2 separate regions of the Homo sapiens genome follow, and region 2 is linked to region 1. A link means that fine-mapping ties the variant in region 1 to the expression of a gene that starts in the linked region. Tissue or cell type: whole blood. Region 1 holds a variant in brackets; the other region holds the start of a gene. Each region is shown on its reference strand, or each on the opposite one.

Region 1 (15,526 bases):
GCCTGGGCAACATGGTGAAACCCCATCTCTACTAAAAATACAAAATCAGCTGGGTGTGGTGGTGGGCACCTATAGTCCCAGCCACTCAGGAGGCTGAGGCAGGAGAACTGCTTGAACCTGGGAGACAGAGGTTGCAGTGAGCCAAGACCATGCCACTGCACTCCAGCCTCGACAACAGAGCCAGACTCCGTCTCAAAAAAAAAAAATTAGCCAGGCACGGTGGTGGGTGCCTGTAATCCCAGCTACTCGGGAGGCTGAGCCAGGGAGGCTGAAGCAAGATAATCACTTGAACCCTGAGGCAGAGGTTACACTGAGCTGAGATCTTGCCACTGCACTCCAGCCTGGGCGACAAAGCCAGACTGTCTCAAAAAAAAAAAAAAAAAAAAAGTTTCAACTTTTTTTATACAGTTGCGCTTAGTATCAGTTCAAACACCCTAAACATAATTGTCTGAAAAATACATTTTCTACAAGTGTTTGCTTTCATAGGAAAATAGTTTCAATTGGTGATAATCCCACCCACCTTTTAAAAACTACCTTCTCACATTTCTTTTTTGTGGACAAAGACAAGTTGTTCCATTTAGGAACTCAATGCTATAAGTCAAATGTTTTAAAGTTTGAGGCTTTTGTTAAGTGGGCATGTGCAAGGTTAATCACTGAGTTTTCCTTTTTATATAAGCCCTCAATTTCTTTCAGAAACTACACTGCATCTTAAATGTGTTCACTGTCACAGAAATAAATACACAAACTTTTTTTTTTCTGTTTTCTTTTTGAGACGGGGGTCTTTCCACGTTTCCCAGACTGGTCTAGAACTTCTGGGCTCAGGCAGTCCTTACGCCTCGGCCTCCCGAGGTGCTGGGATTACAGGCGTGAGCCACCATGCACGGCCAGTCTAACTTGCTGAAGGTAAACCCCAAGTTAGGATATGTACTTTAGTAAGACCACGGTAAGATCTCTTGGCTGTTCCTCTGTGCTTTACATGTAACTTCACATAATCCTCCCAACCTAGATATTGTTACTCCATGGAGAAATTTCTGAACAAAGAGGTTAAACAACTTGTGCAAGGTCACAAAGATAGCAAAATGGAACCTGGATTTGAACCAGAGTCCTTTTTCTCAAGCACTACTTAACTAACCACTCAAGTAACAATCAGAAAAGAGAACTGAACTTATGGACTAGAAAGCTTCTCTTACCTGTATGAGTTCTAACATGCTGAACATAATTGTTTTTTCTGTCTGAAAAATAGTTGCATTTTCCACATGTGTATACTTTCCTTGGAAAATGGTTTCTTAAATGTTTCCTCCAGTGATACTCGCTCACTGTTGTGTATGTGCAAATGATACACTTGTAGACTCGCTCATTATCCCCAGCTCTGGTGTGGTGTTTCAGGTGTGCTGTATAGTGATCATATCGATTAGTATTGTAGCCGCAGCGGTCACAGCGAATGGGGCCCTTGGAGAAATCTCCCTCTTCTGCAGTGGAAGAGCCAGATTCCCTGGCTTTTGCCTGCTTCTCTGCACTCTCTTCCACAAAAAATTTCTTAGCACTGTGAACTCTGATGTGATGCACAAACTGTTCTTCAGATTCTGCTTCATATTGGCATGGCTTACAGCGAAAGGGTTTGGTCTTCGAGCTCTTGCCTTTGTCCTCCGCTCCAGGTGTTTCAGGGGGAAGATCTTTATTTGAACTGTAAATATCTGGAGCACCTGATGCCTCAAATACAGGCTGAGGTTCTACGACGCTGAGTTCCAAACTTCTCAGTTCCATGTTTTCCAGTCCATGAGGTTCACCTTTTATATCAGCAGACTCTTCAAGTCCTTCTCCTTCTTCACTATCTGAAAAGTTGTTATCCCCAACCGGCATCAGTTCTGCCATCTGTCTTTCTTCACCGACCAGGTAATCACAGCAGCTGCCATTTACTTCCCCAGTTAAGGCCACATTTGCCAGCATAATAAGCTGAGGTGCGGCCAGTTCAGCTTTGGAAAGGTCATGCAAGTCATACATGTCGTTAGGCAGGGCCATTCCAATGTTGCCACTGCTGGTAAACAGCCCTCCTCCTCCAGAAGACTGCCCCATTACCTGGGTGGCCATAACTGTATTCTGAATTAAAAACAAAACAAAACAAGAGCACCAGTTTAAACACTACTGTTACTGGCTTAAAACCACATCGCTGTAATTCTTCATAACTTAAAAATTTTCCAGTATGATCTTTATAACTCAGTAAACTTCATCGCCTATTAAAAACAAATCTTTAAAATAGTTGTTAATTCCCAATAGTCTACTGCAATCACCAAAAAAAAATTTCTACTATCCCTATAAAACAATTCTACCAATTGTTTGCACAACTCATTCATCATTCAGCCACTGGCATGTGGTGCCTCCTCAAGCACTTTTAATTGTTCTGGTGGGGATAAAAAGTAACCTTCATTTTTACTGTTAAAATTATTTTAAAAATTCAAAACATGAGTAGTAAATTATTGTCCTCCCAACTTTTCCCCCCTTCAACAGTTCAATGGTCTGAATCAGAAAGCCCAGAAATCCACAAGCCATTCAGTGCATTTATTAAGTACACAAACACATCTGGAAAGTACAAGCCTGTAATAATTGTTCAACTTAATTGGATTTCGCATGAACTCAACTAACTCCAAAAGAATAAACTACTGTGAAAAAGTAGCAGTCAGCCCCTTAATTTTTCGACAACTCCACAGGCTTAAAAGAAAAAACATTTATGGACCCCTTTTCTTGTGAAAAAGGAAGTTTGATTTATTCAAAACTTCACAAATAAAAATTAATAAGCTTATTTTTCTGCAGGCTGAAGTTCCACAACACTGAATTCCAAGCTTTTCAATACGAATAAAATCATCGTGCAACTCAACTCGACAATCAGCAACTTTCTTGCATTGTGCTTGACTTGGCCTACTTGCCTAGTGGAAGCCATTACAAGATCACCTTCTTCAAAACAAGTTGGGCTTTCTAGATGCTACGTTACTTCTCAATCTAAAAGGTGCCATTCTCAAACGAAGTGTTCACTCGCAAATTAAAAAAAGTAAGAAGTTCTAAGAAAATAAAGTTAAACCGAAAATACAAAAAGTAACCCGCTTCACCCAAGTGTATAAACACAAACCGGTTTAGTTCTACGTACCAACAAAAGTTGGAAGCAAATGCCATCACAGAAAACAGAGGGCGAAGGCTGTCCCGGGGCTGAACAGCCCAAGCTATTGGGTAATTTGGCCCAACATCGACTTTTCTAATTGCTCCCTAACCCCTAACTGCCACCCCAAATGGAATTTTAACGATTGTTAGGAAGACCGTCCAGGCACAGCCCGAAAGCCCAACGTGCTGCACGAATTCCTCCGTGCTGCTGCCACCAGCGCCTGCCTCGGCGGCGGCATTCCTAACTGAAATAGGCATTCGGCCATTTTCTCAAAATACCAAACACAAAGCAGCTCTTTGCAAACTCGGGCGCTCTCGCTTCCTCTCGCCTCGGCCCGCTCACTGCACACATTTACACACCAACTCGCGGGAGTCGCCCCGACACTCGTCCTGAGCCTTTTCCTGCGCTCTCCAACACTAAAACGGGGGAGGGGATCAAGCTCGAGGCGCTGTTTGGCCGGAACCAGTCCTCCCCGAGTCCAGGCAGCCCCCTCCCCAGCCCTAGGGCCCCCGTCCCGGGAGAGGACGGAAAGTTACCGCGCAGCCGGCGTCCGGGCTTCTCCGACCGCCCCCGGGCCCCTCCGACCGCCCCGGGGCTCGCCCAACGCCCAGGGCCGGGGAGGCTCCGCGGGCGCCCTCGCGAGGCGTCGGGCTCCGAGCGCCGGAGGGGGCCCCCACACGGGCCAGCCGCCACCCCCGCGCCCCGGAAGTTTGCGAACTTCACTCCCCCACGGCGCCCGGCAGGACGCGCGCCCCAGCCCCGCCAGCTCCAGCGGTCGGGTGGCCGGACGCGGGGGCCAGCGGCGCCGGACGGCTGAAGCGCAGAAATCGCTGTCCAGCCCCGCAGGCGGAACCGCCCGGGCCCCGGGGCTGACTCAACCCGCCCGGCCGCACTCAACGGCGCCTTCCGGCGACAGGGAGAGGCCCTGGGGGAGGGGGCCAGGAGGGCCGCGGGCCGGCGCGGGGCTGCGGTGGGACCCGGGGGCAGGAGGAGGAAGCAGAGGAAGTTTCAGGACTACGGGCCCGAGCAGCTCCGCTCCTTGGCCTCAAAGGACCTGACTCGGTGGAGCGTCCGGGCCAGCGCGGAGGCGGCGTCCCAGCCTCCAGTGGGGAGGGGGTCCAGGCGACGCGCTGCTCCCAACAAACGCCCCCAGCCCCCGGGCGGCTGCTGTGTAACCCGATCCTGCTCGGCCGCCAGCCCCCGCCCGGCGGGGCCGCCGCCGCCGGAGCCACAGTATCTGCAAATCAGCCCTGGACAGCGCCTGACTCCGCGTCCTTCCGCGCCCTCCCCGTCCCGCCACTGCCGCCGCCCGGGCGGCCCTCCCCCACCCTGACCGAGCCCCCAGCCCAGCGCCCCACTTACCGGCCTTCCTCGGTGAGGAGGGGCGGGCGACCCTGAGTCGCCGCTCCTTCTCCGACTACTTTTCTTTGTTGCTGGAGTTTCGGGGGAGAGGTGGGGGAGGGTGGTAAAGTTGGGTGCTGGGGCCGTCGTGGACCAAGAAGGCCCAGGAGTGGGGCTGCAGAGGGTGCTCAGGCCTCCGGGCCTCGCCCTGCCGTCTCGGCTGCGGCAGCCGCCGCCAGGGTCTGGGGCCCCGGGCCTCGGCGGCGCTCGCTCCGCTGCTGCGCCGCGAGCTCGCGGCAGCCGCACATTCCAACACAGGACGCTGCGCCGCGCACCCAGTCCGCGCCGCCGCCGCCGCCACCGCCCGCGGGACACGCCCCCTCCGACGCCCGCGCGCGCCCGCGAGACACGCCCCCTCCGACGCCCGCGCGCGTGGCCGCTAGGCGCGCCCCGCCCCTCTACCAAGCAAGGAGTGCCCCAGTCTCCAGCTCGCCTGGGGGCGCGTCTAGGGGGAGCCGCCCGTAATCCTCCCGGCCCCTCACTCCTGCCCTTAGGTCAGAAAAGAGGCGGGCCCCACTCCCTTTCTCGATTTCTATTACAAACAAACAACAAAAGTTCCCCCCAGCCCTGGCGTGCATGCATGAGAATAGAGCTGTTAAAAGAAGAATCCGCAGGCTTTGACGGGTCTCTTTAGAGCTATTGTCACCGGCCTCTCAAGTCTAAAGCGCTCCAAGATACCCTTCAGATCTCTTCAAGTCTCCACCCATAGCTGTCCTTGACTAATTAAGCTTCGTTTTAAGCGTCTGCGGTAAAAAAAAAAAAAAAAAAAAAAAGTCTTCCAAATTTCAAACTACCGGAGGGGGAATGCAGTCAGTTTGGGAGAAGTGAGAAGAAAACGTTTCAGGAAGGAGGTTATGGACTCAGAAAGCGTGAGCGTGAGGACTGAGGGGACAGATCCCTAGACGTGGCAGGTAGCAGGTCATTGCTGAGCCCGGAAAGCACGACTGCAGGGGAGGAATTACCCTCAGATGACAGAAGAAAAGGTGGTGAGGACGGGGAGGCTGCCTGGGGCCACGGTGTGTCGGAGTAACCGGGCTCACGTCTATGAAGCGGGATAACCAAGCGGAATGCCTAGCCCATAGTCATGTGCTAACAAAAACAAAAACAACAAAAAAGAACAGAGAGAGAGTAATTCCACCCCCTTTCACACCTGAAAGAGCTTCTCAGTCTGCCTTTGATACCTTCCTAAACGTCAGTCGTAAGTCACACCTGTCCTCAGAAGCATAGTGGCTCCCCATGACTACAAGCTTAAAGCTTAAACCCCTTAGTGTGGCGTTCAAGCCCCTACTTAACTTGACCTAGATAAGTCTGACTATTGCTTGGTATTACAACATAAGTAGCAAGTGCTATGGGGGTTTGCCAGTAGGAAGATGGATCCCAAGAGGTTCTAGAAACTTTTCACAGTAGATGTATTCAGTCTGACCTTGGAGAATGAGGAAAACTTCAACAGGTGGAAAGTAGGGCAAGGAACACTCTACACAGTGAAAAGGGCAAGCTCAAAATCCCAAAGCAGTTGTTAAGACATCCCAGCTTCTCCTCAGGGTACCTCACTTCCTTCTCTTTGAAGTTCCTTTATTTGTTTCTCTTAGGGCAGGGCTTCCAGACTCTTCATTTCCTGGTATACCCACGTAGGACCTCTGTTTCCCTCTATCTGGACAATATATTACTAATTAATGCAGTCTCCGATGCAAGATGAAATGAAGACCCTAAGGTGCTCGACCACCAAAAGTTTCAATGAGGCAATTTCAAATGTAACACCTCTCCATGAATCAAACCTGAAAAGTATTCATTTTCATTGAACCAAAGAGACAGGAAGGAAGGGAGGGAGGGAGGGAGGAAAGGAAGATCGACATTTTTAGGACTGGTACAAACTTTTCTATATATATTTTATTTGTTTAACTAAAATCAAGTTTGAGGTCACATGGCTTTTTTAGATGCTGTAGCCCAGGGTACAATTCAGGCCTCTACCAAGGTTGTCAAAGACATAAACTTGTTTTCTTTCCCTTTTTTAGGTCCAAAAAGGCAAAAATGAAATGTCTCTTGTTAAACTTACTAAATGTCCTTCATTTCCTCAATCTGACTGCTTACTGGAAATGTCTTATTAATTGCAAATTTATTCCCACATATTGTGATGCAAATAGAAGAATGGCGAATGGGCAGCTGCATTCATTTAAAATTAGCAGAGGCCCTTGTTCAAGGGATGGCATATTCAGAGTGACCCAAATTATCATGACATGAAGGCCACAGGTCAAATTCATAGGCCAAATTACAAATCAATTGAAAATTTTCTTGAGGGAAGCTGTTGCTATGAACTTGAATTCCTAACTGTTTTTCAAAAGTCTGTATTTTACTTTGCTGTATCCAAACTTTAGGATCTTCTGCAAGATAAAAACTCTGAAATGAGAATGAGTTCTGCTTTTCTTATATGGTTTTTTTCCTGCATATTTAACTCATCAATTTTTTTATTTTAATTATCATATGTTCTTAATAGTATTTTCTCTAGAGAGATTTCTTTCTTTTTTTTTTTTTTTTTTTTTTTGAGACAGAATTTGGCTCTTTTTGCCCAGGCTGGAGTGCAATAGCACGATCTCGGCTCACCGCAACCTCCGCCTCCCGGGTTCAAGCAATTCTCCTGCCTCAGCCTCCCGAGTAGCTGGGATTACAGGCATGTGCCACCACGCCAAGCTAATTTTGTATTTTTAGTTAGAGACGGGGGTTTCTCCATGTTGGTCAGGCTGGTCTCGAACTCCCAACCTCAGGTGATCCGCCTGCCTCGGCTTCCCAAAGTTCTGGGATTACAGGCGTGAGCCACCACACCTGGCCAATTATATATATATATATATATTATTTTTTTTTTTGACATGGAGTCTTGCTCTGTCACCCAGGCTGGAATGCAAAGGTGCGATCTCGGCTCACTGCAACCTCCACCTCCCGGGTTCAAGTGATTCTCCTGCCTCAGCCTCCCGAGTAGCTAGGATTACAGGCACGTGCCACCTTGTCTGGCTAATTTTTGTATTTTTAGTAGAGATGGTGTTTCACCATGTTGGCCAGGCTGGTCTTGAACTCTTGACCTCAGATGATCCACCTGCCTGGGCCTCCCAAAGTGCTAGGATTACAGGTGTGAGCCACCCCGCCTGGGAGTCTTGCTCTGTCGCCCAGGCTAGAATGCAGTGGCAAGATCTTGGCTCACTGGAACCTCTGCCTCCTGGGTTCAAGCAATTCTCCTGCCTCAGCCTCCCGAGTAGCTGAGATTACAGGCACCCGCTAGGACGCCCAGCTAATTTTTGTATTTTAGTAGAGATGGGGTTTCACTATGTTGGTCAGGCTAGTCTCGAACTCCTGACCTGAGGTGATCCACCCGCCTCGGCCTCCCAAAGTGCTGGGATTACCTGTGTAAGCCACCGAGTCCAGCCAGCATCATCTACTCTTGCTGCCGGTTGGACTCTGACCTCTTGTTCTGGTTCTGATAACTGGAATAGTGTCTTACTCATTATAGGCATCAACAGCTTGAGCCAGGGAGGTTTTCCCTTCATGCTGAGAAGGGAAGGAGGTGAACAAGAGAACTTGAGACTTGAGCTGGGCTCCTTCCTGCCTTCTTTTGGAGCCTAGATCACATTTGGAACCCGCTCCCATTTTCGTCCAATCCTAATGCCCTTCCCTGCTGTTTCTGCTCCCATTTTCGTCCAATCCTAATGCCCTTCCCTGCTGTTTCTGTCTCTAACATTTATTACTAACATGCTAGGTATTTTTATTTATTTACCCTACTTAGGAACTTAAGCTCCAGAAAGGCAGAGACATTTTTTTATCCCCAGCACCTATAACTCGTTAGTTGCTCAACAAATATTAGTTAGATGAATGGTTACAAAATCCTAGCTTGGTATCACAATCTCTCAAAGTGGGGACCATCCTTACCCATGTCGGTACCCAACGTTCAGTACCCATCACAGTCTTCCCTCATGTTAAGCATGAGCCTGCCTCCTTGAATCTCCCTAATAACTACTGTTAAATAAATTAATGCTCCTGGATCCCTGGTCTTGGGGTTCTACCCTCCTGGTGAAAATCTCCCTGCCTGCTCTTCTGCATATTGTATTCCTAGCACATTCCTGATTTCACGCATCAGCCTCTGGTTGGATATTCCTTGGTGATCATTAACAATCTGTTTTGGCCAGGTGCGGTGGCTCACGCCTGTAATCCCAGCACTTTGGGAGGCTGAGGCAGGCAGATCACCTGAAGTCGAGAGTTCTAGACCAGCCTGACCAACATAGAGAAACCCTGTCTCTACTAAAAATACAAAATGAGCTGGGCATGGTGGCACACGCCTGTAATCCCAGCTACTTAAGAGGCTGAGGCGGGAGAATGGCTTGAACCTGGGAGGCGGAGGTTGCGTGAGCAGAGATCGTGCCAGTGCACTCCAGCCTGGGCAACAAGAACAGAACTCCATCTCAAAAAAAAAAAAAAATGTTTCAACCTTAGGTATCGTTCCATTTGATGGGTTTAAATACAAGTTACATAGCCT[A/G]TCAACTGCATTGCTCTGCCTCTCTCTTCTCTGGCCTTTACCATTGTCCTTCCTTCCAGAATTCTCCCTCCAAATGTTATGTAGGCCACAAAATGTCACAAATGCAAGAGATCTTAGAGGTGCAGGCTCTTGTTTTATATGTAAAAGGAGACAGGCCTACAAGCTTTTGGCTTGTCCAGGTTTGCACAAGTAGTTAGGGCACAGATGGAGGTAGGACCCATGACTCAATTTCCAGCCAGTCCGGTGCTCTTTCCATGTCTCTCAGACACTTTGTCCAGTCTTCTTTCTGCTCTACCCTGGCCCTATTCCCGAAAACATCTTTTAATCTTTGGGGCCTGATGGGCCACTATGTACAATGGCTTTAGAGATGTATATATTTGAGATAGGGGGACTTTTCAGATCCGCAATTCCATAACTCTGAAGCCTACTTTTTATATTAAGATTAATTACCTTCTGGGCCAGGCCCAGTGGTTCACGCCTGTAATCCCAGCACTTAGGGAGCCCGAAGTGGAAAGATCACTTGAGCCCAAGAGTTCGAGACCAGCCTGGGCAACACAGTGCGACCTCATCTCTAGTAAAAATAATTTTTTAAAAATAGCTGGTGTGGTGAGGTGTGCCTGTAGTCCCAGCTACTTGGGAGGCTGAGGTAGGAGGATTGCTTGAGTGCAGGAGATTGGGGCTGCAGTGAGCCAGGATCACACCACTGCACTCCAGCTGGGTGACACAGCAAGACCACGTCTCGAAAAAAAAAAAAAAAGATTTATTACCTTCTGGCTTGGGAAGCAGAAGCCCTTATTGTCTTCCATGGCATTTAAAACACTCAAGAGCCAACATTGACATGTTAATTTACAAAGCTAATCATCAATTTAGAGGAATATGGACTTGACTCAGAAGACAACTTCTGGCAACCTTTCCCTTCTTCCCAAGGAGAGGTTAAAACCTTCCCACATGAACTCCTAAAGTGCCATAAGTATACTCTTGCGCCTGTTTTCTTTCCCATGTCTTTCTCATCTGTCTGAGAGGGTCTAGAGACAAGAAACTGTGTTGTGTGTTCTCAACATGCTGATATTCCTGACACAGTAAATAAAATCAAACTTCTGGCAAAGTGTATCAACCCAAAGCTAAAGCCAGGCACTGGCTTTATGCATAAATGTTTCCTAGATTAATGAACCTGTACATTTTCCTTGTTTGTCTAAAAATTATCACTAAACCTACTAGAATGGCTAAAAGTTTAAAAAGCTAAGTATAAAATGCAACAAGGGCTGGGTGCGGTTCTCATGCCTATAATTCCAGCACTTTGGGAGGCCAAGGGGCGCAGATCACTTGAGGTCAGAAGTTCAAAACCAGCCTGGGCATCATGGCAAAACCCTGTCTCTACCAAAAATACAAAAAGTTAGGTGTGGTGGTGTGCACCTGTGATCTCAGCTACTCGGGAGGCTGAGGTGGGAAGATCACTTGAGCCCAGGGGGTGGAGGTTGTAGCAAGCTGAGATCGAAACACAGCACTTTACAGCCGGGCACAGTGGCTCCCACCTGTAATCCCAGTAGTTTGGGAGGGCGAGGCGGGCAGATCACGAGGTCAGGAGATCGAGACCTTCCTGGTTAACACGGTGAAACCCTGTCTCTACTAAAAAGTACCAAAAAATTAGCCAGGCGTGTTAGTGGGCACCTGTAGTCCCAGCCATTTGGGAGTCTGAGGCAGGAGAATGGCGTGAACCTGGGAAACGGAGGTTGCAGTGAGCCAAGATTGCACCACTGCACTCCAGTCTGGGCGACAGAGCGAGACGCCGTCTCAAAAAAAAAAAAAAAAAAAAACAATGCGACAAAGATACTGAGCACCTGGAATTCTCTCTCTCTTTTCCTCTCTCTCCCTCTTCTCTCTTGAGACAGGATCTTGCTGCATCACCCAGGCTGGAGTGCAGTGTCATGATCTCAGCTCACTGAAACCTCTGCCTCCTGGACTCAAGCGATCCTCCCCCTTCAGCATCCCGAGTAGCTGGGACTACATGTACGACCTACCACACCCAGCTAATTTTTTAAAATTTCTTTTTTGTGGAGACATAGTCTCACTATTTTTCAGGCTGGTCTTGAACTCCTGGGCTCAAGTGATGCTCCCACCTTGGCCTCCCAAAGTGCTGGGACTATAGGAGTGAACCGCCTGCCTAGCCTATGACTCTAATATTGCTGATGGAAATGCAAACTGTTGTTAACAACTTTGGAAATGCAACACTTTTGCAAACTTGAATTTTCTTATAGACACTTAGCATATAATCCAGTCATCACATTCCTAGATATTTACACAAGAGAACTGAAAACCTGTGGTACCTAAAGACCCAAATGGGAGGTGTCTAACAACTAGAAACAACCTAAAAGTAGTCTAGACTGTGAATGAAAAGCAAATTTGTATCTACCCATTCAATAGAATGATATTGTTGGGGAGGAAAAACTTTTCCTCTATCCTCTTAGGTTGTTTTTTTTTTTTTTTTTTTTGAGACAGAATCTCACTCTGTCACCCAGGCTGGAGTGTAGTGGTGCGATCTTGGTTCACTACAACCTCTGCCTCCCATGTTCAAGCGATTCTTCTGCCTCAGCCTCCTGAGTAGCTGGGACTACAGGCGCACACCACCACGCCCAGCTAATTTTTGTGTTTTTTGTGTTTTTTGAGATGAAGTTTTGCTCTTGTTGCCCAGGTTGAAATGCAACGGCATGATCTTGGCTCACCACAACCTCCGCATCTCCACTTGCGGGTTCAATCGATTTGCCTGCCTCAGCCTCCCGAGTAGCTGGGATTACAGGCACACGCCACCACACCTGGCTAATTTTGTATTTTTAGTAGAGACGGGGTTTCTCGATGTTGGTCAGGCTGGTCTCGAACTCCAGACCTCAGGCGATCCACCCATTGTCTCAGCCTCCCAAAGTGCTGGGATTACAGGCGTGAGCCACCGCTCCCGGCCTATCCTCTTAGGTTTAATCATTGGCGGCATGCAAATCAAATTGACAAAAGACATACTGGCAACATAAAAGACAAATTTTTTTTTTTTTTTGAGACAGAGTCTCTCTATCCCCAAGGCTGGAGTACAATGGCGCGATTTCAGTCTACTGCAACCTCCTCCTCCTAGGTTCAAGTGATTCTCATGCCTCAGCCTCTGGAGTAGCTGAGATTACAGGCACCCGGCACCATACCCAGCTAATTTTTGCATTTTTAGTAGAGAGCCTTTCACCATGTTGGCCAAGCTGGTCTTGAACTCCTGACCTCAGGTTATCTGCCCGCCTCAGCCTCCCAAAGTGCTGAGATTACAGGCATGAGCCACTGCTCCCAGCCCAGAAAAGACACAATTAATCATATATTAAATGTACATAAAAGATTTGATCAAAAAATGTGATTCACGGGGCAGTTGGAATCTGGGCCTATATACCAACTTAATAGAGGAAGGAGAGAGGGAAAAGGGCACTTAGGAGAAAACAAATGACTTTTTGGAAAGACAAATGGGCTTTAGGAGAATAGATGGGAGATATGATAGTTTTGTAACAATGCCTTTTAGATGTGGTGTGCAGACTTCTCTCTCTTCTTTTGTTTTTCTTCAAACCTTGCTTGGTTGAAAGTGACTTCTCATTAGTGGTGATAAGAGTCAATTGTCCCTGGTTGCTTTGCTGGGAAGGGATTTACAAAAACTGAATTCTTTTGGGAGGCTCTGCTTTCAGGGATATAAGAGATTTCAAGAACTCAGATGGCCTTCTACTCAAAATAATTTTTATGCCACAGCTGTGTATTCCGGACTCATTCAATAATAAAATAAAGTAACTACAGATACATGCAACCACATAGATGAGTCTCGAAAGCATTATGCTAAGGGAAAGAAGCCAGATGCAAAAGGCCACTTACCTCATAATTCCATGTGTATACCATTCAGGGAAAGGCAAGCTATGGAAACAAATCAGTGGTTGCCGTGGGCTGGTGGTAAAGGAAGAGGATTGACTACAAAGGGCACAAAGGAATTTTGGGGGGTGACATAATTGTTGTATTTACTTATTTATTTATTTATTCAGAGACAGGGTTTCGCTCTGTTGCCCAGGCCAGAGTGCAGTGGCATAATCATAGCTCACTGCAGCCTCAAACTCCTGGACTCAAGAGATCCTTCTCCCTCAGCCCCTCAAGTAGCTGGGATTACAGGCATGCACCACTCTGCCAGCGGGGTGATGTAATAATCAACATCTCAACTGTGGTGATGGCTACACAACTATATACATTTCTCAAAATTTGTAAAACTAAACTACTTACAGCCAGGCGAGGTAGCTCATGCCTGTAATCCCAGCACTTTGGGAGGCCGAGATGGGCGAGGTGGGGAGTTCAAGACCAGCCTGACCAACATGGAGAAACCTCATCTCTACCGGGCGTGGTGGCAACAAGGGCGAAACTCCATCTCAAAAAAAAAAAGAACCTGAACTACTTACAAGGGTAAATTTTACTGAATACAAATTATACCCCAATAAACCTGACTTTTAATAAATAGAACTATAGGCCAGGTGCAGTGGCTCATGCCTGTAATCCCAGCACACTGGGAGGCTGAGGCAGGTGCGTAACTTGAGGCCAGGAATTTGAGACCAGCCTGGCCAACACGGTGAAACCCCATCTCTACAAAAAATACAAAAATTAGCCGGGCATGATAGCACGGGCCTGTGGTCCCAGCTATTCAGGAGGCTGAGGCACAAGAATTGCTTGAATCCAGGAGGTGGAGGTTGCAGTGAGCTGACATCACACCACTGCACTTCAGTCTGGGCAACAGAGTAACACTCTGTCTCAAAAAATAAATAAACAGGCCAGGTGCCGTGGCTCACACCTATAATCCCAGCACTTTGGGAGGCCGAGGTGGGCAGATCACGGGGTCAGGAGTTTGAGACCAGCCTGGCAAACATGCTGAAACCCCATCTCTACTAAAAATACAAAAATTAGCTGGGCATGGTGGCCCGTGCCTGTAGTCCCAGCTACTCGGGAGACTGAGGCAGAAGAATCGCTTGAACCCAGGAGGCAGAGCTTGCAGTGAGCCGAGATCGCGCCACTGCACTCCAGCTTGGGCCACGGAGCAAGACTCTGTCTCAAAAAAAAATAAAATAAATGAAAATAAATAAATAAATAAACACAAAACTATAAACAATAGATACTAGTTTTTGTGTGAGTGTTTCAGGTATATGCATTGTTTTGGTAAAGTGTTCAAAATCCTTTCATAAAATGTTATATCTGAGAATGTCTTTCCTCCTGATACAGTCTCTATTAATTTATACTAAAAAGTCACTTCCTATCCTTAACCCTATTTATCCAGCTGGTATTTTTTTTTTTTTTTTTTTTTTTGAGAAGGAGTCTCACTCTGTCGCCCAGGCTGGAGTGCAGTGGCACGATCTCGGCTCACTGCAAGCTCCGCCTCCTGGGTTCACGCCATTCTCCTGCCTCAGCTTCCTGAGTAGCTGGGACTACAGGCGTCCGCCACCACGCCCGGCTAATTTTTCGTATTTTCAGTAGAGACGAGGTTTCACCGTGTTATCCAGGATGGTCTCGATCTCCTGATCTCGTGATCCGCCCGCCTCGGCCTCCCAAAGTGGTGGGATTACAGGCGTGAGCCACCGCGCCCGGCCCAGCAGGTATTTATTCAGCACCTTCTCTGTTTAAGGTGCAAGGGTGGTGTGGGGCTAGGAGGTGGGTAGAGAAGTATAAAATGGGTTTTGACTTTCACCAGCTTATTATCTAGTTGAGGAAATAAAATATATCCTGCTTTAGTAAAAGCACAGTCAGTAAGAGCTTTTAGAGTTTGAAGAATTTGCTTCCAGCTAGTAGTCTTGAGCAAGCTTCAAGGAGGAGGTGGAGTTTGTTTTGCCAGAAACGATGCAGCCATGGCACAGTTTACATGGGGAGAGTCCAAAGTACAGAGATCAGTTACCTTAAGGTCATCCCTAATGTGTCAGTCCATGAAAGGCAGGGTAACTGATCCTCGTGAAAGATGAAAAGGCAGAAGAATCAATGCAGGAAAAACAGCTAAACCAAGATGGCACACCAGCCGGAGTTGGAGCAAAAGAATACTGAAGATGAAGTGCACAGGATCAATGGGGTACAGACACCCTTTTACATATGGGTGTGGCTTGCTCCAAAGAGGTATTTAAAAAGCAGGGATCTGGCCAGGCACAGTGGCTCACAACTGTAATCTCCCCGAGATTGTGCCACTGCACTCCAGCATGGCGACAGAGTGAGACTCTGTTTCAAAAAAAAAAGGCTGGGCATAGTGGTTCATGCCTGTAATCCCAGCACTTTGGGAGGCTGAGGCAGGCGGATCACGAAGTCTGGACTTCAAGACCAGCCTGTCCAGTATGGTGAAACCCTGTCTCTACTAAAAATACAAAAATTAGCCAGGCATGGTGGAGGGCGCCTGTAGTCCCAGCTACTCAGGAGGCTGAGGTAGGAAAATCGATTGA
Region 2 (15,526 bases), not on the chromosome of region 1:
GGAAAAAATCATTTTGCATGGAGTTAAAGCATTTTAGATAGGACAAGTCCTTATTTACTTGAGGCAAATGAAGCATCCAGAGCCTAAAACACTGACGTTATGCTAAAAAGTTGACTAACAACATCTGGTCAGTTTAGCAAAGCTGGTAGGGCATGGTGCTAGTGAGTGCAAGATCTAGGCTTATGCTAGTATTGGCCAGTCAACTCTGTGCACAAGAAAAACCATCCGTGGCCACAGCATGCTTCACGAAACTTGGCTAACTGTCACACGAAATTGTACTCTTGGCCAAAGGGAAGACTGGGTGATGGAATGTGAATTACTCAGCATAACCCATCCTAACTCCTGGGTAAGCAACCCAAAGCACATGTCCAAATGATAGGTGTGTCATCTTTCTATAATAAACATGACATCTGGCTAGAAAATACAGCTGGCCAACTTACGACAAAATTAAAAGCTGAACAATCCTTAAGGATTTTATCAGAGTTTACCAGTAATTCCTACCAGAAGCAGTTAATCAGTCATTATGTGAAAGATGTGCTGTACCAGCCAGGTCTGACCTAGAACTTAGCTACACAGTGTGCCAGCATTTCAGCTTGGGTCCCTTTAAACTTCAAGCCCTCTTGACATTAACTAAGAGGCAGGAATTTTTCATGAAGGTCATATAGTCAGATGCCATTTTCATCAATAGCTGAAAATTAGCTTATTAGAATAATTATGATTATTTTAGCTGGTCAACAGATGGAGGGGACTATTCTCAAGAGGGGAGTGAAAAGACTAGGAAGAGTTGATGGGGTAGGTGGTCAGTTAAGTACCCTGGGCTGACCGGGAAGCAGCCACTTTGGAGGGTCCTGCCCTCACTTAAGAGCTTGATTTGGTGCAAACTGCCTGGGCCTGCTTGAAGCTGTCAAACCCTATTTGCCCCAGGCATGGGAGGCTCCAAGTAAAGGCAGCTGCTTCTTTTGTACCAAAATGTATTTACTGAACAACAATCACTACCCATTCTATTTGGTCTTCATTAAATGACTAAAGCATACATGCTTCTTATAACAAGTCAAATACAAAAACATATAAAGTAAAAGTTCCCCTTTGAGTCTCCTTTTCCCTTCCCCACACCCAAATCCCACCTCCCAGAGGTAAACATTATTGCGTTTCTTTTCAATCTTTAGATGTCTATACATGGGTATTTCCTTCCCTACTGAAATTTATCTAGGAATTTAAATTCACTTTTGCTCTTGCACCTGAACAGCTTGCCCTGGTTCTTTAATTACTCAGTAGTTTCTGCCTTGAGCCAGTCTGTAATTCTCTCCATCCAAAATGACCTCCCTTTACCTCTGCTCACTGGCAAGGTTTCCCTCTTAAGATGAATAGCTCCTTTCCCTTGCCCCCTGGATCTCACGGATGCAGAAGCTGATTTTAGCAAAGTCACCGATGAAATCTATGCCTCTACCAGTTGAGGAAGTCAATAAAGACCACATGTGTGTCCCTCACAAGCAAGAGCTCAGCAGCTTTTCTATTTCAAATGAAGACCACTCCCCAGACTGGCCTCCCTGCTGGAGAACTAGCCACCCCCACCACACACCCAAGCACACCACATCTGTGCCTCCTAAAGTCAAATGCTCCTGTCCTGCCAGTCTTTCAGGTTGGCTGAATACATGGAGCAAAGATACATTTCATATACTCCGGTTTTGGCAGTTGAAATAATAATGCAAGTGCCGGGTCTTCCCGGTACAAACCTTTTCTCTGTTCGTGTCAAATACCGAGAGGGGTGCTGAGAGATGGGGGCTACAAAACTGAGAGTCCAAGATGGACCTAAATCACGAAACAATTTTGAAACCATTATTTGCTATTTTATGCTTTAGTCAATATAAAATAATCATTGCTATTTCTTATGAAGCAAGCACTCTACATACTCCCTTTCATTTAATCTTCACAACAACCCTGTAAAACAGATAGTTATTATTCCAGGGTTATAAATGAGGAAACTGGCATTCAGAGGTAACATAACTCACCCAAGGCCACACAGCCAGGAGATGGCTGGATGGGGATCTGAACTCAAGTCTGCCTGCTTCCAGAGGTCAGGCTGCCTCCGCGCTTCCCAAGGAGAGGGTTTAGAAGTCCTTATGGCTCCCAGAAACTACAAAAGGTTCCATTCTGAGAGGTGGAAGATAAGCCCGCAGCTGCCCAATGTGCACGCTCCTCCTCTCAGCCCCATCTGCCTCTCCACCTTGCTTTCTGGAATGCGGCAGTCTCACAGATAAGAAGTAGAAAAGACTTCAAATACCCAACTTCACATTTGCTTTTCTGTTAGTTGATGCAAATTAAAAAAAGAAAGACCTTCCTGAAGTCAGAATGTGTGATAAAAAATATTATTTTTAAAGTGGCAAGAATAAATATTTAGTTAGACAGTTTGACACAAAATTTTGCCTGGCTGTGCAGCATCTCAGATGACAAAACAAGCCCTTGCCTACAGGGCTAATTACGGACTACTAAATTATTTTTATTAAAACCCTTTGGAACATTATGAGGGATGAGGCAATGTGGTGTTGAAGAATAACTCTAGTCTGGAAATCTGGAGATCTAATCCTGACTCAGCCACTAATAACCACCAACATTCATCTGCCTAGTGTACACAGTTTACAAAGTGTTTTTACATACGTTCTGCATGGGTTGGGTGACCTTAGGTAAGTCATTTAACTCTTGGTGTCTTGTGTCAACTTTAGAAATGAGGGCATTAAACTATACCATCTGGGGTCACCTCCAGTGCTAACATCCTAAGCGAGGGAGACATGTGCCTTGGGACCTTTACAAATGTATCTGTAAGCAAATCAGGGCAGATGCATTCTGTTTTAAAAAACTATATTTTCTGGCCAGGCGCGGTGGCTCACGCCTGTAGTCCCAGCACTTTGGGAGGCCGAGGCGGGTGGATCATGAGGTCAGGAGATGGAGACCATCCTGGCTAACAAGGTGAAACCCCGTCTCTACTAAAAATACAAAAAATTAGCCGGGCGCGGTGGCGGGCGCCTGTAGTCCCAGCTACTCGGGAGGCTGAGGCAGGAGAATGGCGTGAACCCCGGGAAGCGGAGCTTGCAGTGAGCCGAGATTGCGCCACTGCAGTCCGCAGTCCGGCCTGGGCGACAGAGCGAGACTCCGTCTCAAAAAAAAAAAAAAAAAAACTATATTTTCTGTTCGGCTTCTGACAAATGTTACTCGGCTAAATTCAGGAATAGCTCATAAGACGTTTGCTGCCAGTTAGTTGGCTCAGTTTCTGGAGAGTACCACATTAAGACCCTGGGTTGGATTCTCATATGGGAACTTTCCTCCGTTCAATAGCCTCCTACTATGCCTAACTCCAGCCAGTCATCTTACAAATACAACCCCACAATGTGTGCTGGCGTGCAGGAAGGACTAGAAGAAACTCAGCTTCACAATGCATGCACTCTCAGGACGGTAGGTCAGAAACGGCATCATCACACAGGAATACTATCAATAGCATTCTTTCTCAGTTCCAAGATTCACAAATCCCTCCCTCAAGTCTTGCCATTTCCCGAGGGTTTTAATGTTTCTAAAATGAGGATGCACCTTGGAATCAGCATATATATTTTGATCTGGTAGCATTAGATTATTTTACCTAAAAGCTATTGGTAAATTGCTGGTGTGTCTTAGAATCAAGAATACAGTCCTACAAAACCTCAATACCATTACATAGATTTAGGTCTAACTTGGTTCAAATCATGTCCCTCTCCTTGATCTTAACAATTACATTCAGCAACAGCTGGATAGGCAATGTATAAGACAAGTATTAGTCCTGTTTCCTCATAGTAGCAGTTTAAAAGGCATTCCATCATTATCTCATAAAACACTGGTATGGATTTCAAAGGCAAATTAATCCATATAAAAACTACTCTGATCCTCTGAAAATGTACTATCCCATAGCAAACTGGAAAGGAACATTTTACTTACACCCTCCTGATCTATCTAGCCTTGACACATTTTCTTCCTCCTTAATTCACAACCCTCCACCCCAGTAATATCGCTGATTCCCAAAATACACTCAGCCCAGGAGGAGCAGCTCTCCAGTACAGCTGTCTGCTCCTGCCCTGCTCGGGTATTTTGGTGAGCTATGTGACACAGGACCACACAGAAGGAATGCCACTCTCAGGCCCCACAGTTCCCACTGCACCACAGGCAGGTGCATCCCACCAAACCCCAGTCTGGCATTCGAAACAGAAGAAACTGCCCTGCTGGATGGGGGCTATAGTTTTCCTGAACTTCATCTCTATGTTTAAAACTAGGGCGACAGCCGTCTTGGCTACTGTAAACTAATCTGATGGGCATGGGGGCAGGGAGTGGCTATGAGGAGGCTGCCAATAGGCCATGATTGAGCAAAGTAAAGAGTGAAATAGTTATTTCTCATTGTTTGCAACCCCGGAAACTCCAAATGAGTGGCTCCTTCACCATGATTTTTAGAAATGGACCATGCGTTCCTTTTACCATCTGGAGTAAAAATCCCAAAGCCTCTTGTGCGGTAGATCTGGCTTATATTTACACGTGCTTTCTAAAAGCACACTGAAATTTGGAAGCCAAATAAAAAAGAAGCTGACAATGAGGTCATATAGTAGTTAGGGGCCCTCAAGTTGAGACATGTTTATTAAGAGTTTCTGGCTCTGGGCACTAACTCTGACTTCAACTCAGTTCTTCTGGAAAAAGAAAACTGTTTGGGACCCTCTTCTATTCCAAGAACAGGGACTGCAAGATGGGCAGGTGGAGGGGTAGCAAACATAACCCAGGGAATTGTCCAAATATGCTAGAACCCCTATCTGGTGACAGCCCCACAAAGACACACAGCTGGAGGAGGCACAGTGTACAGGCCTCACACCTACACCATGGAGAAGCTTCGATTTTTCTCCTTCCTCTCAACTCTGCACACGTTATGTTAAAAACTCACTACTATCCAATTAGTTAATTTACAGGAATCCAAGATCAAGTCCTGCCACAGCCCCTTCATATATAAACAGTAAGCACTTCCTATGGATGGTATCAGGCCTTTTTCCAAACCTCACATTATACCAGGGTTGTAGTGCGATTTAAAAAAAAAAAAAAGCATTTTAAAGAGTTCCGCAAGATGCTTATTCACAACACCACACCGGAAGCGCAGGAACTTGGAGCTCCCAAACGCAACCTCTTCTCCCTTCCCTCCACTACTTCTACTCCCCGCTCCGCAACACCGGCCGGGCAGTAGCTCAGCCCACTAGAAGGCCACCAGGCACTAGCCGCGTTCATTAAACGCTAGATGATCACGATGGGGCTGAACCCTTCCCAGCCAAATCTATTCGGAAAGCCCTGCAAGCTCTGAGCAGCCAGTGAGAACTGTCCAGACCTGCTTCCCCAAACCAGCCAGGCAGGAGCGTGTGGGGAAGAAACCCGAGGCCCCCAGGCTGGGCCTGGCCCGATGTTCCCCCTCCCCCAAGTCTCCCCTCGCTCTCCTGTCACTCTTTTTCTGGCACATCACTGGGGAGATCCAGAGAGGCCGGGAGATGTCAGGCCTAGGAGGAGTGAGGAGGAGGGAGAAGGGATAAGGGCGGACGGGAGGTAGTTTGGAGAAAATATCAGCCCAGGGCAGAGGTGCGGTGGCCACGTCTAGTGGGGAAGGAGCCTCAAGGTGGACCCGGAGAGACGGAGGGAAGGGGAGGGGAGGGAAGGGGAGGGGGAGTGGCTGGGGAGGCCGGGCCGCCAAGGCCGGAGGGAACCCGGCGACAGGGATGGAGGGGGTTGACCGGCGCGGGGAAGGCGCGGTCGGGATGCGGGAGTGCGGGTGGGGAGGCAGGGGCGGGGGGAGCCCGGTTCCCCTCCCCCAGCCCGGGCCCTGGCCTCCCGCTGACTCAGCCCCACGGCGTCCGTCGCCTCGGCCCGGACTCACAGTGCACGAGGCGGCTCCGGCGGAGGCGGAGGGGGAGGGGACAGGTGGCGGGGGCGCTGCGGCAGAGGCTGCGGCTCCGGCCGGCGGCTCCGGGGCGGAGGGTCCTCGCTGAGGCCGCCGCGGTCTCCGGCTTCAACGCACAGAGACTGCGGGGGACGAGGGCACTGCGCAGGCGCGATGCGGCCGCCGCTGTCAGTCCGAGCGGGGCGGGGCCAGGGCACCCGCCGTCTCCAAGGCAACTGAGCCGCGGGAGGACAGCCCCTACCTCCACCTTGCCTTAGCGATTGCGGCGGGAGGCGGGGGGCGACAGGAACAGGCCCACTGCGTTGCCGTAGCAACGAGGAGAAGAGACCGCTTCAGACGTGTGCGGCGGTACCGAGGGAACGCGCCTACCTCGTCACCATAGCAACTGGGAACAGCCCCTTCCTTTTTCCCTGGCAACAGGGTAACAATCCCTCCGCCCTGTCTCATCACAGGAGGAACAACCGTGTGCACCTGATTTCAGTAGCTGGATGACGGATTTTCATCTTTTATGGCTACGGAAAAGGAAAAAGAGACGTTTTCTTCTCTTTCAGCGACATGGAAGAGCTAAGGCTGGGTTTTATCTCCTCTCTTGGTGTGTGGGTTCCAATCACAGTCTTTTTCTCTAATTCCCAAATTCATTTTTTTTTCTTTTTTTTTGGGACGGAGTTTCACTCTTGTCGCCCAGGCTAGAGTGCACTGGCGCGATCTTGGCTCACTGCAACCTCTGCCTCCTGGGTTCAAGCAATTCTCCTGCCTCAGCCTCCCGAGTAGCTGGGATTACAGGCGTGCGCCACAATGCCTGGCAAAGTTTTTGTATTATTAGTAGAGACAGGGGTTTCATCATGTCGGCCAGGCTGGTCTCGAACTCCTAACCTCAGGTGATCCACCTGCCTCGGCTTCCCAAAGTGGTGGGATTACAGGCGTGAGACACCGCGCCCGGCCCAATTTTTTTCTACCTGTTTTAAACATCCCCTTTCATCTCCTACCAGAGAGTGTGCCCTTTACCCTTAAATCGAGCTAACGAAATCGTCTATCCACAGACCACTTGAGTTTTTGTCAGCCTTATTGTCTCTCTCCCATTGCAAGGATAAACACCTCATTTCTTCATCTTGCTCACTATCTGGTTTGCAGTCCACTTCCTCATAACTAGCTCCCTCTGACATGTCCATTCGTTTTCCCGAATTTCCTCCTCCAAGCATGCTGTTATGGATCTCCTCGGTTCTTCTGGATCTCCCTTTCCTCTCCACACTTGCTGTCCTTGTCCAGCACTGCTCTGCCCGGGGCTCCAGTATGTTCTTTCCCCCTGTGACTTCAGCATCTTGGTTCTCTTTGTGCTGATGTCTTCTGGCTCTTCCTCCCTCAGCCCTGATTCCCATGGATGCCTTGAGGTCACCTTTGTACCAACCCTGTACATTCCTCCTTTCTTACACACACCTTACACTATCGTCATTTGTTTACGTGTCTGTGTCTCCAGACTATGTGACCCTGGTGGGCAGGAATTCTGTCTTTTTCATCAGCTCCCTCAGCATCCACCACAGCATGTGACACATAGCAGATTCTGAGAAATGCTTATGTAATTGAATCAAATGAAGACAAATCTTTTCCTTCTTCTTTTCTCTGGCCTAACTGCCTCAGAGTCCCAGTCCCCATTTCTAATACCTTTACACATAGTTTGTCTTTTAGTACTATGCTACTATTATAAGTCTTTCATCTCCTTAGCTTTCCATCCTGTTAATTGAGACTCTGGCATTCTCTATTTCCTGAATCCTCGCCTCTAGCTCTTCTCTCTTCTACACTATCCCAAATGTTTCTACTAAGGTAAATTTCCTCACTGGGTACCAACCCCGTGACTCCCATACCCTCCATAATCAGCGTAAGCTCTTCACACCTAACCATCCTGATCATCCCCTAACCAGCTCTAATCAAGCCTTCTTGGTGAACGTTACTGGATTCTGCTGGGCTTGTTGACATGCCAGAGATGCAGCATTCTCTTCAAACAACTCAAAAGCAAGAGCTCACAACCTAGCATTCTCTTCCAAATCTCCCTGTCTAGCTCCCACAGATTCCGCCGCAGGACTATTGGTGCCAAAGCACCCCAACTAAGCCCATTTTCTTGGGGAAAAAAGAAGAAAGTTACAAATAGAGTAAGTAAGAAAAGAGAGGGGACACAGCATATCCTCTCTTCTTCCACCTAAAGCAATTATCAGAAAGGAGAGAGCTCTTTGTAGACAATAATTCCCAAAACAAATCAAGGGGTTAGGAGAGTAAAAACCCAGGCTACACTTTTTTCTAGCCACAGAGTTGGACAACTGGAGCTGTTTCTAACTGCATCTGCAGGGTATCTGGGTGTCACCAAGGCAATAGGGAAGTCGCACGCTCAGTTTATCTTGCTTTCCCATTCTGAAGTTCCAGCTCAGCTTCATTGTTACAGGTATAGACTTGGGTGGTGTAGACTGTCCTGAGTAATCCTGAGAAGAAGCTATGATCCTTGTAACCCCACCCCTTTGTCATACACAAGGTAGAGGACCATTCTACAAAGAGTTCCTATATACCCTTCACCCAGATTCTCTACATATTAACATTTTACTATGTGCCATTAACTATTGCTACAAAATGAATCACTCCAATTCAGTGGTTTAAAGCAACAACCATTTCGTTATCTCTATTTCTGTGGGATGGGAATTCAGAAAGCCCGCAGTTGGATGGTTCTAGCTCAAGGTGTGAGTCAGAAGGTGGCTGAAACTTAAACAGCAGGGTGCTTGCTGGACGACTTTTTATGTTGTCTTAGTGCTTATAGATCATTTGTGTAATTTCTTTGCACGAATGTCTAGTCAAGTCCTTTGTCCATTTTTGAATCGGACCGTTTGTTTATTGTTGTTGAGTTTTAGGATTTCTCTATATATTCTGGATATAAATCCCTTATCAGATAATATATGATTTGCAAATTATTATTATTGTTATTGTTATTATTATTTTGGGCCAGAGTCTTGCTCTGTCACCCAGGCTGGAGTGCAGTGGCACGATCTCAGCTCACTGCAACTTCCACCTCCCAAGTTCAAACGATTCTCACGCCTCAGCCTCCCGAGTAGCTGGAACTACAGGCATGCACCACCACACCTGGCTAATTTTTGTATTTTTAGTAGAGACAGGATTTCGCCATGTTGGCCAGGCTGGTCTCAAACTCCTGACTTCATGTGATCCACCTGCCTCGGCCTCCCAAAGTGCTGGGATTAATGGCTTGAGCCACCCACCACACCCAGCCCCAGGACAGTTTTCTAATACTGTTAATTCCACTTCTTTAGCTTGTTTGTTTGTTTAAGACAGGGTCTTGCTCTGTTGCCCAAGCTGGAGTACAGTGGCGTGATCACGGCTCACCTACAGCCTTGACATGCTGGGCTCAAACAATCCTCCCACCTCAGCTTCCCAAGTAGCTGGGACCACAGGGGTGTGCCACCACACCTGGCTAATTTTCTTTTAGATTCTTTTTTTTTGTAGAGATGAGGTCTCGCTATGCTGCCCAGCCTGGTCTCAAACTCCTGGGCTCAAGCAATCCTCCAGCCTTGGCCTCCCAAAGTGTTGGGATTACAGATGTAAGCCCAGGGCCTGACCCTAATTCCACTTGTTGTTGTTGTCTTTGAGACAGGGTCTTGCTCTGTCACCCAGGCTGGAGTGCAGTGGTGTGATCATAGCTCACTGTAGCCTAGACTTCCTGAGCTCCAGTGATCCTCCCACCTCAGCCTCCTACATAGCTGAGACCATAGGCATGTGGCACATGCCAGCTAATTTTTGTGTTTTTAGTAGAGACAGGGTTTCACCATGTTTCCCAGCTGGTCTAGAACTCCCAAGCTCAAGTGATCCACCCACCTTGGCCTCCCAAAGTGCTAGGATTACAGGCGTGAGCCACCGTGCCTGGCCTCCACTTCTTAAATGCCTCTCAAAACTCTTCCCTTCTTTATCTGCTTCACCTTTACCATCTCTTGCCTGGGTTACTGCAGAGCTTCCCGCCTGCTCTCTCTGCCTTCAGCCTCTCTCATCTCCAATCCATTCTTTACACCATTGTCAGAAGGCTCTTTCTAGAAATAAATCTTATCACATAACTATCCTGCTTAAATCCCTATGGCTGTCCTCAGACCTGCTGAAGCAACTTCCGGGATGGGGGATTCATGTAAGGAAACAGGGCGGAAGAAATATAGAATAGATTATCTTCCTCATTTTTTTTTTTTTTTTGACCCAGGCTGTCATGCAGTGGTGCGATCTTGGCTCACTGCAGCCTCTGCCTCCCGAGTTCAAGCAATTTTCCCACCTCAGCCTCCCAAGTAACTGTGACTACATGTGTGAGCCACCACGCCCAGCTAATTTTTGTATTTTTTGGTAGAGATGGGGTTTCACCATGTTGGCCAGGCTGGTCTCGAATTCCTGACCTCAAGTTATCCTCCCACCTTGGCCTCCCAAAGTGCTGGGATTACAGGCACGAGCCACTGTGCCTGGCCCTCATTTGTTTTTTTGAAGTAGGGTCTTGCTCTGTTGCCCAGGCTGGAGTGCAGTGGTGTGATCATGGCTCACTGCACCCTTGAACTCCTGGGCTCAAGCGACCCTCCTGTCTGGGTCTCGAAAAACACTGGATAACAGGTGTCAGCCACCAGGCCTGACCTCTTGAATTTTATTTATAATAAATACATCTTTAAACGTAATCTTTAAATTTTATTTAGAGATTCAGAAAATATTTATCTTATTTTAATTTTAAATGTATTTTTATTTATTTATTAAGGTAAACATTTTTATATTAAAACAAACAGACATAAGATGGAGTAGAATATAAGAATCACATGATTTCAAAGACAAGACCTTTAAAGAGAGTTTGAGCTCAACATGGGCTGCCCTCTATTCCCATGCCTGTGTTATCCACTGCCTTGGGGTACTTTAAGTGGAAAAGTTTGAGAAACATTGGCTTAAAGGATATAAAACTTCAGACATCTTCACATGGTGGACAAGCTCTACTACAATCTGGCCCCTACCAACCATTTCCCCTTCACCTTCTACTCCTTTTGTACCCTATCCCCTACTCCAACTTTTATAGTTCTTGCAGTTGGCCAAGCAAGTGGTTTTGTTTTGTGGCTGAGCCTGCCTTGCAGGGTTGCCCTTCCTTTCCCTTCATCAGGCAAACTTGGACTCATTCTCCAAGACCAGCTTTTGTGTCACCAACTTGGTGGCATGGTCATGGGCCTCCCCCAGAGAACCGACTTGCTCTTTCTTTTTTCTTTTTTCTTTTTGAGACAGAGTCTCGCTCTGTCGCCCAGGCTGGAGTGCAGTGGCACAATCTTGGCTCACTGCAACCTCCACCTCCTGGGTTCGAGCGATTCTCCTGCTTCAGCCTCCCGAGTAGCTGGGACTACAGGTGTGCACCACCACGCCCGGCTAATTTTTATATTTTTGGTAGAGATGGGCTTTCACCATATTGGTTAGGATGGTCTTAAACTCCTGACCTCGTGATCCTCCCGCCTCAGCCTCCCAAAGTGCTGGGATTACAGGCGTGAGCCACCGCGTCCGGCCCCTACTTGCTCTTTCTCCTTGGTACCGGGTCCATTCTTTGTTATGGTTCCCCTTTGCCTTCAGTTATTATGCTTATCCCCATGTTTCCCCATAGGAGGGCCTCACACTCAAAGACCATATCTTATCTACCTTTGTATTCTTAGCACCTTGTACTTTGCATTCTTAACATCTTGGAGTAAAATCACCCAAGCAAGTTGAAAAAAATCTGATCCTTCTGCACTTTCCCCAAGGTAAGTGGGCAAACCAGAGGAGTCTAAGAGGGTGGATTAACTCTGTGAGTTGCGGGGCTAGAGTTTAGATTGGAGCAAGCAAGCCTGCCCTGCCCCGGCTGTGAGGTGGAGACAGGAAGGTGCTGTAAAGTTGGTAATTGTTACCAACTGCATTCATTATTCATTTGAAACTAGCTAGAAGTGGAACAGGGCACTGAAATAAGACTGATTCCCACAATACAGGAAACCTTTGACATGGTTTTGAATGTTTACAAGAGACCTATGTAAGTCATACACAATTTTGCTGAGGAATGAATTTTAATTACATGCCTTGAAATGAATGAGCCCTTATTTAGAGAGTGCATCAACCCTCCTCCCTGCTGGAGTTACACAAGCACTGGGTCCAACACTTCCTAGCTATGTGACCTTGGCCTTGGTTTTTCTCATCTGTAGTTGTGATGGTTAAATGAGATAATGTGTGAAAAATGCCTGGCACTGCCTGATGGATAAATATCCAATAAATGGTGACTATCAACACTAACAAAACTTTCGTAAGGGTCATTCAGTAGGATCACTACTTGATCCCCCCTCTCCGCCCCAGTTATACCTTCTATATAGAAGCTAGTGTGGAAACTGAGAACTTGCAAAGGTCTTAAGACACACCTGTGAACATTAATGACCTGCTGTTTCCAGAATGCCGAGCAACTCAGGGCCCCAGAACTATTCTTTCACCCCTCCCAGCTTCTGCATCTCCATCTGCTGTTCCAGATGCTCTGTAGCCACAATCTGTGCTTCTCTTCATAGTGGTCACCAACTCAAACTTCAAGGGCCAATCCATGCAAAGGTAGTGTAAGATAGAGGTTAGGAACATTGGTTGGGGAGTTGGACTCGAGTGAACACACTAAATCTACCACTTACTTGCTCTGTGGCAAGCTATTTAACTCAGTTTCTCCATCTGTAAATTGGGGACAATAATAGTAAATACCTTGGAGAGTTAATATAAGGATTAAATGAGATCATGTTTATTAGATACTTAGGGCAATGGTGTGGGCATTCAATACATGGTATTAGCTATTATTTCTATTTAAAAGTGAAGTGTGGGCCAGGTGCAGCAGCTTACGCCTGTAATCCCAGCATTTTGGGAGGCTGAGATTGGAGGATCGCTTGAGGTCAGGAGTTTAAGACCAACCTGTTCAACACAGTGAGACCCCATCTCAAATAATAATAATAATAATATAATAAAATAAAAGTGAAGTGTTACATTCATTGTAGACAGTCTCCCAAAGGAGGTAAAGTTAATTGTTACCATGGCTGACACTTTTAGTTGTCTCTTTCTCATGATAATTATATATTATTATTATTATTATTATTATTATTATTTGAGACAGAGTCTCATTCTGTCGCTCAGGATGGAGTGCAATGGCACCATCTCAGCTCACTGCAACCTCCGCCTCCTAGCTTCAAGCGATTCTCCTGCCTCAGCCTCCTTAGTAGCTGGGATTACAGGCGCATGCCACCATGCCCGGCTTTTTTGTATTTTTACAAAAATAGTAGAGACGGGGTTTCACCATGTTAGTCAGGCTGGTCTCGAACTCCTGGCTTCAGGTGATCTGCCCTCCTTGGCCTCTCAAAGTGCGGGATTACAGGCGTGAGCCACCGTGCCTGGCCTGGTAGTTATTTTATAAAACTAGCATATATTCAGATCCTATGGCAGCCAGGCATGAGATACATACAATTTCTTATAACCTCCTTGGTCACCTTCTGAGGTTAGTATTATTCCTTCCTTTTTTTATTTTTTGAGATGGAGTCTTGCTCTGTTGCCCAGGCTAGAGTGCAGTGGTGCGATCTCGGCTCACTGCAACCTCTGCCTCCTGGGTTCAAGCTATTCTCCTGCCTCAAACTCCCGAGTAGCTGGGATTACAGGCGCCCACCACCACACCCGGCTAATTTTTGTATTTTTTTGTAGAGAAGAGGTTTCACCATATTGGCCAGGCTGGTCTTGAACACCTGACCTCAGGTGATCCACCTGCCTCGGCCTCCCAAAGTGCTGGGATTACAGGTGTGAGCCACCACGCCCAGCCAGAGGTTGGTATTATTCTTATTTCCACACATAAACAACAGAGGCCCAGAGAGGTTAATAACTTACCTAAGATAACACAGCTAGTGAACATCAGAAGTGGAGCTTGAACTTAAAGTCAACACCAAAATCCAGACTTCTTCCACTATCCCATGCTTCCTACATTTTCTTGTGTGTCAACATGTCTTTTTTCAAACTCACCTCTAAATGCAGGAGCTACACTTGCTTCCTGTTGTCATGTCTCACACATGCCTGGTAGATGTTCTATAAGCATGGATTAGACAGAAGGTGGAGAACTCCTGTAAATAAACCTAAACTAGAATTGCCACATAAAGACAAGACACTTTAGTTAAATTTGAATTTCAAAAAAACAAAAAATAATTTTTAGCATAAGTATGACACAGACATTATTCGGACATAAACTAAAAAATTATTTTTTATCTGAAATTTACATTTAACTGGGCATTCTGTTTTTTTTGTTTTGTTTTGTTTTTTTTTTATGGGATGGAATCTTGCTCAGTCGCCCAGGCTGGAGTGCAGTGGCACGATCTCGGCTCACTGCAAGCTCCGCCTCCCGGGTTCACGCCATTCTCCTGCCTCAGTCTCCCGAGTAGCTGGGACTACAGGCGCCCGCCACCACGCCCAGCTAATTTTTTGTATTTTTAGTAGAGACGGGGTTTCACCGTGTTAGCCAGGATGGTCTCCATCTCCTGACCTTGTGATCCGCCCGCCTCGGCCTCCCAAAGTGCTGGGATTACAGGCGTGAGCCACCGCGCCTGGCCCGGCATTCTGTGTTTGTATTTGCTGTATCTGGCAACCTTATCCTAAATTCTGAGATTGGTCTTGAAAGGGACAGCTTCCTCCAGGGAGCTCCAGACGGGAGAAGGCTGCTATGGCCACTCACTCGCACTCGAGGCAGAGGAGCCTGAGCTGCTCTGGGGGCAGGGATTGGGGCCTGGTAACCTGGACACACCTGCCATTCCTTCAGCTTTATCTGTTCACATCGTAAGCCAAAGCAGCGACCACTGATGAGCTGAAAGCGCCATCTGGAGGCCTTTACAGGTAGTACAGTGGCCACGGGCCATCCCACAAGATCCAGGACTTGGGGAGCAGAGAAATGCCAAACCAGACAGAGACCACGCAGAAGAGGAAGCCAGCCTGGAGGTGGCCAGGGGCAGGGGAAGATGGATCTTCCTGGCATTTTCGGTTTTCAGCAGCTGCTGCTCTGGCCGCCTGGGGGTGAAGTCACTCTCCACAGGAGGTTACTGGCTAGGGCTTCACGTTCCTGGAATCCTCTGCCTCTCCAGCTGTTCCCAGCTCTTCCCCAGGCTGGAATTCATGGCCTTAGGAGAAGCACCATAACCTGGGTTGGCTGAGGGTATTAGGGCTCATGCTTGAGGGTAGTTTTAAAAATCTTCACCCTCCGTCCTCAGAGGCTCATCAGTCATGATTATCTTCCAAGACAGAACAGTCTTTAATCCCATGGGCCAATAGTTACAGGGAATTTCAGCCCCACTCCAACCTTAAATCAGTAACACATACGTGTATAGCAAAGTACTTAGCATACAGTAGGCGTTTAATAAGCATTACTTCCCTTTTCCCTCTGGATTGAATGCCTCTCCTCCTCACCTCCATCTCATCTTCCCAGGCTCTTTGTATGTGATATGAAAGGCTACCCTTAGCATCTCCTTCTTCCTCAGTCTGGGGGCACAGGCACTGAGGACAGTCGCTCCTGGTGAACTGACCTCC

What was found. PIP is the estimated chance that this variant, and not a neighbour inherited with it, causes the effect. A credible set is the group of variants that fine-mapping cannot tell apart.
Region 2: MAPRE3 starts here. The variant in region 1 is the best candidate, but not a certain one, in a credible set for the expression of MAPRE3 in whole blood (TOPMed, PIP 0.62).

The regions. Positions count from the first base shown.
Region 1 is chr4:56,897,201-56,912,726 of GRCh38, reverse strand. It overlaps REST (RE1 silencing transcription factor), which reads right to left and starts at 4,827. Exons shown (of 4, transcript NM_005612.5): 1 at 4,514-4,827; 2 at 1,191-2,097. The coding sequence starts at 2,088. RefSeq lists enhancers at 2,581-3,510, 4,441-5,370 and silencers at 3,601-4,450, 4,561-4,950, 5,050-5,344. The variant A/G (reference allele first, on the strand shown) is at 9,069.
Region 2 is chr2:26,961,194-26,976,719 of GRCh38, reverse strand. It overlaps MAPRE3 (microtubule associated protein RP/EB family member 3), which reads right to left and starts at 6,083. Exons shown (of 7, transcript NM_012326.4): 1 at 5,918-6,083. It overlaps LOC124905979 (a long non-coding RNA gene), which reads left to right and starts at 11,648. Exons shown (of 3, transcript XR_007086251.1): 1 at 11,648-11,721. RefSeq lists a silencer at 5,869-6,198.